3 linked regions of the Homo sapiens genome follow. The protein of the gene in region 2 interacts with the protein of the main gene of each other region in a biochemical or structural test. Each region holds a gene or a part of one and is shown on either strand. Other genes may lie near its edges.

Region 1 (3,753 bases), on a different chromosome or scaffold from region 2:
ATGTGCTCGGCACACACACCGTTTTGTGCTCACATGTTCACAGAGCACTTGCATGCACACACACACACACACACACACACATACACACACCATACTCACCTGGACACTCTCCTCCAGTCCACAGTCTTCTGACGCAAGGTGACAGGTGAGCTGGAGGCCCTCACTGCTGGGGCAGCCGTGCTTTGTGTCAGGCAGGGCGTGGTGAGCACACAGCACAGGCCATCAGCCACCTCTGAGGAGGGAAGCAGACAGCCGGTCAGGGACCCTGGGGACGCCTCAGCCAGTGTGGGGTTCAGGCCTGAGACACTCTCCAGTGCAGCTCCCTGGCTGCTGCCATGGGGAACTGGGCCTGAGATTTCAAAGGGGCATGGTAGGTGGTGACAATGCTGAAAGTCACGCGCCCAGCTGTTTGAGAAATGTAAGCGTGCCCTGGTATACTCTGCACTTAGCCAGGCATGGGCAGAGAGAGAGGTTTAAGATCCAGTATCAACCAAGCTTGGGTTTGAATTTTAGCTTTACCCCGATAGTAAATTATCAAGAACGTCTCTGAGCTTTCCTTTCTTCAACTGCAGAATGAAAGAAATGAAGCAACAAGTGAGTGCCTGCAGAAGCCGCAGCCTTCCAGGGTTTCCCGCAAATGCCCAATCCATTAACCTCACAGGGTGTGAGAATGGGGCTGCATACAGCGCTGATCCCCCCAGTTGTGCATTTACAATGGAACAGGTGGACTAAATAGATCTCTAGGAAGAAAGATAAAAGAAACAATGAAAGAAGGAAGGAAAGGAGGGAGGGAGCAGAGGAGGAATGAAAGAGGGCGAGGAGGAAAAGCAAAAGTGAGAGGGAGAAGGAGGAAGAGGAGGAGGTGAAAATAGCACAAAAAGTAGAAGACACAGGAAGGGAGGGAAGAGAAAACAAAGATAAAGAGGGCAAAGAGAATGCAGACAAAGAATGAAGACAATCTCTCTTTCACTCTAGAAGCTCACGCACAAAAAGAATAAAAGTTAAATAAACCCGTTTCTTTTTTCTCTTGCATGAAAATCTCTGTATAAAATGTCTGACTCTCAGGATCCCCCATCTTTCCAGGCACATTACGATGTAGCTTCCGTCTCTTGGAAGGCTTCTCCCTAGCCCATGTTATCATGAGAAAGACTTGATTCTGCTGTACTCAGCCATCTTAGAGATTGAGGAAATTCTGCACAGTCTTACTCAGGCTGAAAACCCCAGTGCTTCTCCTGTGCCCTGGGGGGAGATGATGTGGTCAAGGGGGTGAGGTGCCACTGGCCTCCGGCAGGGCTAAGCCACCCCTGGCCTCAGAGCCAATCCACCACCAGGTTTTCGACAGCACGTCACACCTCTGACAGGCCCCACTTCCCATCGGGTTTATGGAGTGCTCTCTGGGGCATCCTTGCCAAAGAACAAAAGGAATTTGTAGCAGAAGAAGCACACTCAGTCTGTCACAGGGCGGGCAAGCCAGGAAGACCTCGTTTCATGGTTTTCAGTCCGACTTCAACTGTGAACTCAAATGTCCACCCACACAGGTGCCCTTGGAGAAATGGGAGGTGAGACCATGAATTTAGAGGGAGATTTAATCGGGTGGGAATCTGAAATAATGACCTGTCATGGGTTGGAAATTGAAATGACCTCCCAGGATATGAGGCGAGGAAGATGAAGTCAGATGCAAAGGCTGGAGAGATCAGCTGCAGTGTGCAGCACAGGCAGGGGACACTCCGTGAGTGTCCTTCCTTAGACAGGTTAATACTCAGGGTGAAAAATACATTTTGACAAAGAGCAAAAGAACCACCACTCATAAGCACATAACATGAGCCCAGCACTGAGCTAGCCTCGTACCCTGGATCTCATTGAGGCCTTGATCAGCTTGTGGTCAGTTTTTTTTTTTTTTTTTTTTTTTAGACGGAGTCTTGCTCTGTCTCCAGGCTGGAGTGCAGTGGTGTGATCTTGGCTCATTGCAACCTCTGCCTCCCAGGTTCAAGTGATTCTCTTGCCTCAGACTCCCGAGTAGCTGGGATTACAGTTGCATGCCACCACACCTGGCTAATTTTTTGTATTTTTAGTAGAGATGGAGTTTCACCATGTTGGCCAGGATGGTCTCAATCTCCTGACCTCATGATCCACCCACCTCAGCCTCCCAAAGTGCTGGGATTACAGGTGTGAGCCACCACACCCGGCTGTCAGTGTTTTTATACCCATTTTGGGGAGGGAAAAACTGAGCATCCCGAGATGAAGTAACTTACTCAGGGCCGTAGAAATGTGACCAAAATCAATCTTATTGACTCATTCTAAAAGCAACTCATTGCCTCTTAAATGAAGAAGAAAGACATCCTCCAGCTGTCTCTTGGGTTCAGACCCCCTGGTCTAATTCACCTCTGTCTACATGGCTCATCAGAATGCACACTCCTCTGCACCTTTAGGGTCCAACAGCTCTATATTGAAGGGTTCCTAGACCCTCAAGGTCCCCAGCCCTTGATTTTCCCAGCCATATTTTAGAATTCATGTATGCCCCATGCACTCTGTTCTCTCAGTAACCACCATGCATGGTATACTTTAGGTGCCACATTTTTCACATGCATCTTTTTTTTTTAACTGGACTAGTGGCAATCCTGTGAAAATTATTGCATTTTAATCCCCATGTTGTAAGTAAAAAAATTGAGCTTCCAAGATGCCAAGTAATTTGCCTAAAGGCATCATGATGAAAATTATAAGCAACCTGTTGCTAGATGTCAATTCAAACCCCTGGTGCACAATTCCTCTCATTCTGTGTCTTTTTTTTTTTTTTTTTTTTTTTTTTTTTTTGTGAGATGGAGTCTTGCTCTGCCACACAAGCTGGAGTACAGCAGCACTATCTCAGCTCACTGCAACCTCTGCCTCCTGGGTTCAAGTGATTCCCCTGCCTCAGCCTTCCGAATAGTTGGGATTACAGGCGCCCACCACCACACCTGGCTAAATTTTGTATTTTTAGTGCAGACAGGGTTTCACCATGTTGGTCAGACTAGCCTCGAACTCCTGACCTCAGGCGATCCGCCCACCTCAGCCTCCCAAAGTGCTGGAATTACAGGCATGACCCACCATGCCTGGCCCATCTGTGTCTTTAGAGTGAATCCAGTGGAGATAAAAGTGGCCATGTGGCTCCCACTTGGAGATTCTCAAGGGGCATAGGAAACAGTTCCGGTTTTTACCCTTTTCAGTTATTCACAGAGGTGAACAGATGACTGTAATCCATTGAGTGGTTCGATGACCAGGAACATACTGCGGGAAGGCGCCAGTGCTGCACTGGGGTGAGATATTCCCCATGGTCAAGCAGCGGCAGTTAGATTTCGGTATTTTTGGCCTGGTAGCCTCATGGCCTCATGGTCCCTAGAAGCTTTGCTAGGACAGCATCCTTCTCATGTTTGCTTTTGTCTATGCAAAACTTATGGTCTCCACACCCCCTCCGATGGTTGTTATTAAAAGCCAAATACCACAACCAACCTTTTCTCATAACCAATATAAGTTGGCTGTTTCCAGGACTCCCTTCCTCTTTCGTTTTTACCTGGCTGCTAAGTTTTCGGATATCACAAGTAATATGTGTTATCATTTATTTTGCATCTGCTATGTGACAGGCTATGCTGAACGCACTACATGAACGATTGTGTTTAATAATCACCTGCTAGGAGCCCATATTCACCCACCTCCCATAAATGGGGACCCCAAGTTCTGAGGGGTAGCTGACCTTGCCCAAGGCCTCACAAGGTGCAA
Region 2 (3,753 bases):
ATATTTTGTTTAATATTCAATAATGTCATTCGGGATTTATAATCTCCTATTTTCAGCGCCGGGCGCAGTAGGTCATGCCTGTAATCCCAGCACTTTGGGAGGCCAAGGCAGACAGATCACTTGAAGTCAGGAGTTTGAGACCAGCCTGGCCAATGTGGTGAAACCCCGTCTCCACTAAAAGCGATTACAGGCGCATACCACCACACCTTAGCCAGGCTGTAATCCCACTACTTGGGAGGCTGAGGCAGGAGAATCACTTTTAAACTGGGAGATGGAGGTTGCCGTGAGCTGAGATCGTGCCACTGCACTCCAGAGCAGAGCCTGGGTGACAGAGCCAGACTCTGTCTCAAAAAAAAAAAAAAAAAAATACACACACACACACACACACATATATACATACATATATGTATGTATTTTTTTTCCTATTTTCAACTGCCATACAGAGATACAACACTATCCTGTTGTCAGACACTTTGGGATGGTACAGCTACCAACCTTAGAAGCTTTTGGATTTGATTCTTTTAAAATATATCCTCCTTGAAAACAAGTTTCACTCTGATACACTTGCTGCAAAGATCTATATCTATAATAGCTGTCCTACAAAATTCTGTCACTTCCTCCTAATACAAGCTTTTGTTTATGAATAGTACCACTAATCCTTTAAGACCACTGTCAGCTCTCATGAACACACAAGTGTGTTAACATCAGACTTGGTATTGTTTTTCAACAGAAATATCTGGAACACTTTGTAAAACTGGGATCGTCAAAATCAAGCTCTATCAAATCATACTCCCATAAGGTCTGTGTCCTGGCAAATAATACATATATCAATATAAAATAGAAATTAAAATATCAATTTAAAATAGAAATTAAGAAACAATTTTCGTTGTCGTATGTTTCACCTAACACTATCAGGCCATGCTAATGTGGCAACAAATTCCATCAACACATCTATCTGCAGCCTAGAAGGATCTCAAGTCAAAAAGCAGACAGCAGTCCTTCTTGGATCCCATTTTATCGCAGGTGGGCTTCCACGTGAGACCAAAACAGTAAATGACAGCGAGACTAAACACATGCTTGCTGTCAGGGCATAAAACTGATCCTAAAAGGAAGGCTCATCAAATATAAGGTCATGAGGCATGGTCACTCAATTTTAGAAGTGTCTTCTAAACCCAAGGAAACATGAAGCAGAGTGCCCCAAGAGTTATCTGTGGTGAACTCATCACCTGCCTTAAGAATTATCAACACCCTGACGTATGCATTGAACTGGTTTGCTTACGACTCACGATTAATCTTATCTTCTTGGCATCTGCCTATTTGTTATCTACTCTTTATATTTTATCCTTCCATGCTCCATAAGGGATTCGCGGGAAGGAGGGAGATCCACCCGCCCGGGGCACGTTCTAGAGAAAGTTAAGTCAAAAGATAATGCAATGATAGCGCTCCGGCCTCTTCCAGGAGGGGCTTGGCAAAGATGGGGACAGAAATGTACAAAGAGACATCAGAAGCTGGGGCACTGTAAGGGGTTCCAAATCAGACAGGGTCGAAGTTCAAGAAGGAGAAGGTCCCTGGTTAGCAAAGCATAGGAGAAGGAATTTGGAGAAGATAAGAGTGAACAGGCTTGAAGTGGCATTGGACCAGCAGAAAATATCACAACGCAAAGTCAACGACCCCGTCCCCTGAAGCTATTGCCTGTCTTACCAGAGCCTGAAGTGCCAGCAGCGACGACACGACAGAATCTCAGCGGCCGAAGGGTTCCCACTTCCGACTCAGCACAGCAACCGGAAGTTACGTCATCAACAAGCGCCGGGGCATGTGGAAGTTCATCTCCGCGCCGGAAGCACGGTGTGCAGGCTCACCGGGGGGAACGGCGCGCAAATAGTCCTACAGCGCATGCGCTAGCTTGTTAGGGGCGGGCTGGAGGCGGGCAGGAAGTGGCAAGAAGTGGCCTTGGCATCGGATTGTGGGGGCTGGAGTTGGCCCACCTGGCAGTGCGCTTTGGAGTATAGAATATGAGGCTGGGTTTTGGAAATCAGCGTACCGAGGGCAGATAAAACTCTGTGATCCCTGGCTCTGCTCGCAACCTCTGTTGGGGGTCTGCTCTCTTATTTTCCCACCAGTCCTAGACCTTTTTGAAGCAGCTTCTGTTACTCTCTATTATTCAAAGGGATAACACTAACAGCAATAACAACTACAAGTTTGTTATTGTTGTGCTGTCTTTGGAGCAATCTTTGGAGTGTGCTATCTTTGATTGGATTTCAGTTTTCTTATCTGTAAAGTGGAGACAGTATACATCCTACAAGGTTGTTTTGAGATACACATAGATGGCCAGGCACAGTGGCTCACGCCTTGTAGTCCCAGCACTTTGGGAGGCTGAGACGGGCGGGTCACGAGGGCAAGAGATCGGGATACACATAAATAATAGAAGCAGCATAATTTTCAAGAGTTAAAAGCGCTGTGCAAGTGAAAATTCACAGATTGAGAGAAAATAGTTGCAACTCATATATCTGATAAAGGATTCATCTCTAGAATATGTAAAGAACTACAAGAACGAAAAACCCCCAAACAGTTCAGTTCAAAAAAGGGCAAAGGACTTGAATAGACATTTCTCCAAAGAAGATACATTCCAAGAGAATGACTATCCACTTGGTATCTGTGGGGGATTTGTTTCAGGACCCCCTTGGGTACCAAAATCCAAGGATGCTCAAGTTCCTTACATAAAATGATGCAGTATTTGCATATAACCTATGCACATCCTCCTGTGTCATCCTAGAGATGACTAAGTCATCTCTAGATCACTTATAATACCTAATACAACATAAATCTAAATAGTGTTGTATTGTTTAGGGAATAATGACAAAAAGTCTGTACATGTTCAATACAGATGAAATTTGTTTTGGAATATTTCCAATTCATGGTTGGTTGAAGCCACAGATGCAGAGCCCACAGATATGGAAGGCCAACTGTACAAATGGTGGATAAGCATATGAAAGAGTGCTCAACACCACTAGTCTTTAGGGAAATGAAAAAAAAAATCATGAGATACCACTTAATACCTACTAGGATGGCTACTATAAAAAAAAAGGAAAGTAATTGTTGGCAGATGTGGAGAAATTGAAACCGTATGCGTTGCTGATGGCAATGTTAAATAGTCCAGACTTTTTGGAAAAACAGTTTGATGATTCCTCAAAAAGTTAAACATAGTATAACCACATGATCAAGCAATTCCGCTTTGATATAGATGTTCAAAATAACTGAAAGCAGGAACTCAGATACTTGTATACATATATTTACAGTAGCACTATTCATAATAACCAAAAGGTAGAAATAACCCAGAATGTTCATTAACAGATGAATGCATAAACAAAATATGGTATATAGCTACAGATGACTTATTCAGCCTTGAAAAAGAATGAAGTTCTGATACACGCTGAAACATTGATGAACCTTGAAAACGTTATGCTAACTGAAACGAGCCAGACAGAAAGGACTAAATAGTGTATGATTCAGTTTATATGTGGTACACAGAATAGGCACATTCCTTGAGAGAGAAAGTATAATAGAGGTCACCAGGGATTGGAGGGAGAGGCGAATGGGAGTTATTGTCTAATGGGTACCAAGTTTCTGTTTAGGAGGATGAAAAATTTCTGAAATGGGTAGTGATGATGGCTACACATTGTGGATATATTTAATGCCATTGAATGGTACACTTAAAAATAGTTAAAATGGGGTTGGGTGCAGTGGCTCATGCCT
Region 3 (3,753 bases), on a different chromosome or scaffold from region 2:
GCAATGCAAAAGGGTACAACCACTGTGGAAAACAGTTTGGTGGTTCCTTAAAAAATTAAAAATAGGATTATTGTATAACTCAGAAATTCCAAAAGTATATATATTTGGTATATATCCAAAAGAACTGAAAACATATTGTTCATGCAGAAATTTGTACACAAATGCTTATTATTGCTGCATTAGCTACAATAGCCAAAAGATGAAAACAACCCAAATGTCCATTGACAGATGAACAAATAACTTGTGGTATAAACATACAATGGGAATATTATTTTTCCATTAAAAAGAACGAATACTGGCATGTGCTACAGCTTGTATGAATCTCAGAAACATTATTACAAGTGAATGTAGCCAGCCACAACAGGTCATGTATTGTGTGATTCCGTTTATATGAAATATCCAGAGGTGGTGGTTGCAGATTTTGAATGTGCTAAATGTCACTGAATTGAATACTTTAAAATGGTTAATTGTATGTTATGTGAATTTTACCTCAATTTTTTAAATGGGTCATAAACTTATGTTTAGCATAATCCCCTTTTAATTTTAAAAAATGCAGATATTACATGAGAAAAAATGTGCTAGAGCATATTTCAAGACATTAAAGATGGTTATCAGTGAATGATGAGAAATTAGGTAATGTTTATTATTTTCGCTTTGCTAAAATTATTTAAAAATTACTTGCATATTAAATTTTTTAATGCCTAGGAAAGAAAGACTATAGTTGTATTGACTAAGATTTCTACGAGCATGGGGAAAATGCTTAATTTGTAGGGTTAATCAAGGATAAAATAAATTGCATTGTATGTACAATGTGATCCCAAGTATTTAAAACACACTGCTTATGGTAACAGTCAGTCTGTGGGAGACAGGTTAAAAAGTGATATTTTCCCTTCCTACTTTCCAAATTTTCTTAACAAACATATATTATGACTATAATCAGAAAAAATTATTTTTAAAACGTCTACTATGGGGCAAGCTAGGTTCAAAAAATAGAAGTTTGATAAATGTAGTTGGCTTGCTATTGACAAGGAAGACGTTTACACTGGAATTCTATATTTTGAGATATACCATTCCTCATAGAAAAATTTCCTCACAGAAAATATAAAGGTGGAAACAAATCACAAGAATCGAACCATGTAGAGAGACTTAGTTGTCTTTTAACAGAATTGGGCACGGGCTGTTCAGAAACAACAATCTTTCACATCCATTATAATGATAGCATTAGTGTAGTTTGTTTAGCAAATGTTTACTGTGAGCCTGTTATGTGCTGAGCCTGCTATGTAAGAAGTGTGGCTCTCTGGACAGGAGACAGAATACTAAACAACACAACTACTGATCTTTGGCTGCCTGGCATGCTTCCTCACTTCATATGGTATCAGCAATTTAGCACCACAAACGTCCTTTAGAGAACCAGCCCTTTCTCATTCTTGGTTCTAGTGGCTTGAGTAGACTGACCCCAGCCTACCCAAAGTGGATTTGACTCCTAGCAATTCATTAATCTAGCCCAATAAAATGTCAAGTACAGGACTTTTATTGAAAGCATTCAGAAAAGAGGTGGACTCTCACACTAAACATTTGTAACTAAATAAGGGATGTTAGAAATTCTCTAGAAAGGAAGCTATGATAATAAATGGGTTGCTAGATGGGTCTAGTAGATGGTGGCCATGCTTTGTTACTGCCTTGTGTATTGTGCTACCATAGCCCTCCCCAAACTGTACTCTGGCTCCTGGCATTTCCGTCTCTTCAACCAGATGGTCAGCTCTCTAAGTGAAGGAGACACATCTCCAACATGCTTGGTTCTAGCACAACAGAAGGGCTCAAACACATACCTGCTAAAGAAACTATCCTGATGGATTTAGCAGCATGGCCATGAGGCATTGGCGGTTCTATCACTGGGAACTCAGGTTTCTGGTGCTCCAGTACCTCTACTGGCTGATACCACATCCTACAATTCACTTCATAGGCTTGGGTTCCTGCTCTGGGCTGAATAGGTGGTCCACTCTGAGTCATCAGCTGTGGGTGATGATGTGGTCACTGCATGATTCTCACACAAGCACCCAGAGGACGTCATCAGGCAGAGGCAGTGGGGGTGGGCAGCATTTACAGAAAATCTGTGATGAGACACCACAAAACCAGAGGGGAACATGAAGTCACTGAGCCTGCTCCACCTCTTTCCTCTCCCAAGAGCTAAAAGAGAGCAAGGAGGAAACAACAGCAGCTCCAACCAGGGCAGCCTTCCTGAGAAGATGCAACCAATCCTGCTTCTGCTGGCCTTCCTCCTGCTGCCCAGGGCAGATGCAGGTGAGTGACCGTCTCCACCCTCGGGGGCCCAACCCCATCCCACAGGTCTCCTGCCCTTTCTCCACATTCCTGATCCATCTATCTACCAGGAATGTTCTGAACTCCAGCTCCCATTCTACCAAGACCCCCCAAGTGTGATGCTGGATAAGCTATCAGCAGGAATGGCAGAGCAGCAGGCCATTCTCAAGAAGAGCCAGTGGGTACTATCCCTTCCCCAGAGCCCACCTTTGTCACCTGGAGAGTAGGACTTTCCTAGAAGTAAATGGCAGAGGATGGGAAACTAGAAAAGAGAAATATTAAATTATTCTAGAGTAGGCCTGGCTTCTGTTTCTGGGATAAGACAGGTGCTTCTCTCACTGTCTACTTAGGAGAGAAACCCAGAGCTCAGCTGACAGCAGAATTGGTACAATCACTGTCCTCAGAACACTGTTAATGTGTTTGCTCAGTCCCATTCTCCAACTCTGCTTTTCTTCCCTGGCCTTTGGTGGCTCCCCTCTTTCCAAGGATGAGGCACTACGGCAGGCCCCAGCTTCCCTGCTTTCTAGAATTCCACCAGCACTGCTCTACCAGCCCTCATCCAGAGGCTAACTGGAGCCAGTCCATCATGCAGCCATGAACATTTACTGGGCACCCACTACATGTCAGGCTCTAGGAAACAGGATATGACAGTATCTAGATCCCTCCACTTACACCCTGGCCATTAGAAAGCAGCACTATCCTAGACACCACAGGACTCATAAGGGTCTTGGAAACTCACCTGAAACAAAGCAAAGTCAGGAGAGGAATGATCAGGAGCCTCTGGGATTTCACTGTCCCTAAGACAGGTATGCTCGCCTTCAACTACATATGGAAGAAAGATTTACAGACCAAAGTCTGCTGTTCTTCCCTTTTTCAGAGCAGGAAATTGAAGCCCCTTCCTCCAGGCCACTCCCAACTCCAGGCTATCCCAGGCTCCCAAATGCCCAGGAGTTCTGGAGCCACTAAGCAGGTGCCCACCCAGCAGATTCCATGGGTGCCCACAAGCAGACAGACTTTTCCTTCAGGGGAGATCATCGGGGGACATGAGGCCAAGCCCCACTCCCGCCCCTACATGGCTTATCTTATGATCTGGGATCAGAAGTCTCTGAAGAGGTGCGGTGGCTTCCTGATACGAGACGACTTCGTGCTGACAGCTGCTCACTGTTGGGGAAGGTGAGGAGCAGAAAACAGCCCACACCCTCCTGGAAACACTCCACAGAGACCCCTGCCTTCTTCCCAAGGAGCTCCCTGGGCTCCTGTGAACACACATGCCAGGAGGTCTCCTTAGAGGGTGAGAAAAGGGCAGTTAAGTTTGTGGAGAGAGGGGAAGGTTGGTTCCAGAGGTGCTGCTGAAGTAAGAAACAGCAGAGTGACCAAGCCTGCCATATTTAGAACTGGGGGCATACTTTGGCATAGAATACAAACTGAAGCAAT

What was found.
Region 1: the proteins of UBE4A (region 2) and SLA form a complex in vitro, tested with the Homo sapiens proteins (one study listed by BioGRID).
Region 3: of the proteins of UBE4A (region 2) and GZMB, one has a biochemical effect on the other in vitro, tested with the Homo sapiens proteins (one study listed by BioGRID).

What each region holds. Positions count from the first base shown.
Region 1 is NC_000008.11:133,039,899-133,043,651, forward strand, and holds part of SLA (src-like-adapter), read right to left. Parts: intron 233-3,753; coding exon 100-232; intron 1-99. UniProt on the Homo sapiens protein: Adapter protein, which negatively regulates T-cell receptor (TCR) signaling. Inhibits T-cell antigen-receptor induced activation of nuclear factor of activated T-cells. Involved in the negative regulation of positive selection and mitosis of T-cells.
Region 2 is NC_000011.10:118,357,623-118,361,375, reverse strand, and holds the start of UBE4A (ubiquitin conjugation factor E4 A), read right to left. Parts: upstream 1,777-3,753; 5' UTR 1,702-1,776; intron 1-1,701.
Region 3 is NC_000014.9:24,632,654-24,636,406, reverse strand, and holds the start of GZMB (granzyme B isoform 1 preproprotein), read left to right. Parts: upstream 1-2,216; 5' UTR 2,217-2,246; coding exon 2,247-2,301; intron 2,302-3,058; exon of another isoform or gene 3,059-3,305; intron 3,306-3,331; coding exon of another isoform or gene 3,332-3,344; coding exon 3,345-3,492; intron 3,493-3,753. UniProt on the Homo sapiens protein: Abundant protease in the cytosolic granules of cytotoxic T-cells and NK-cells which activates caspase-independent pyroptosis when delivered into the target cell through the immunological synapse. It cleaves after Asp.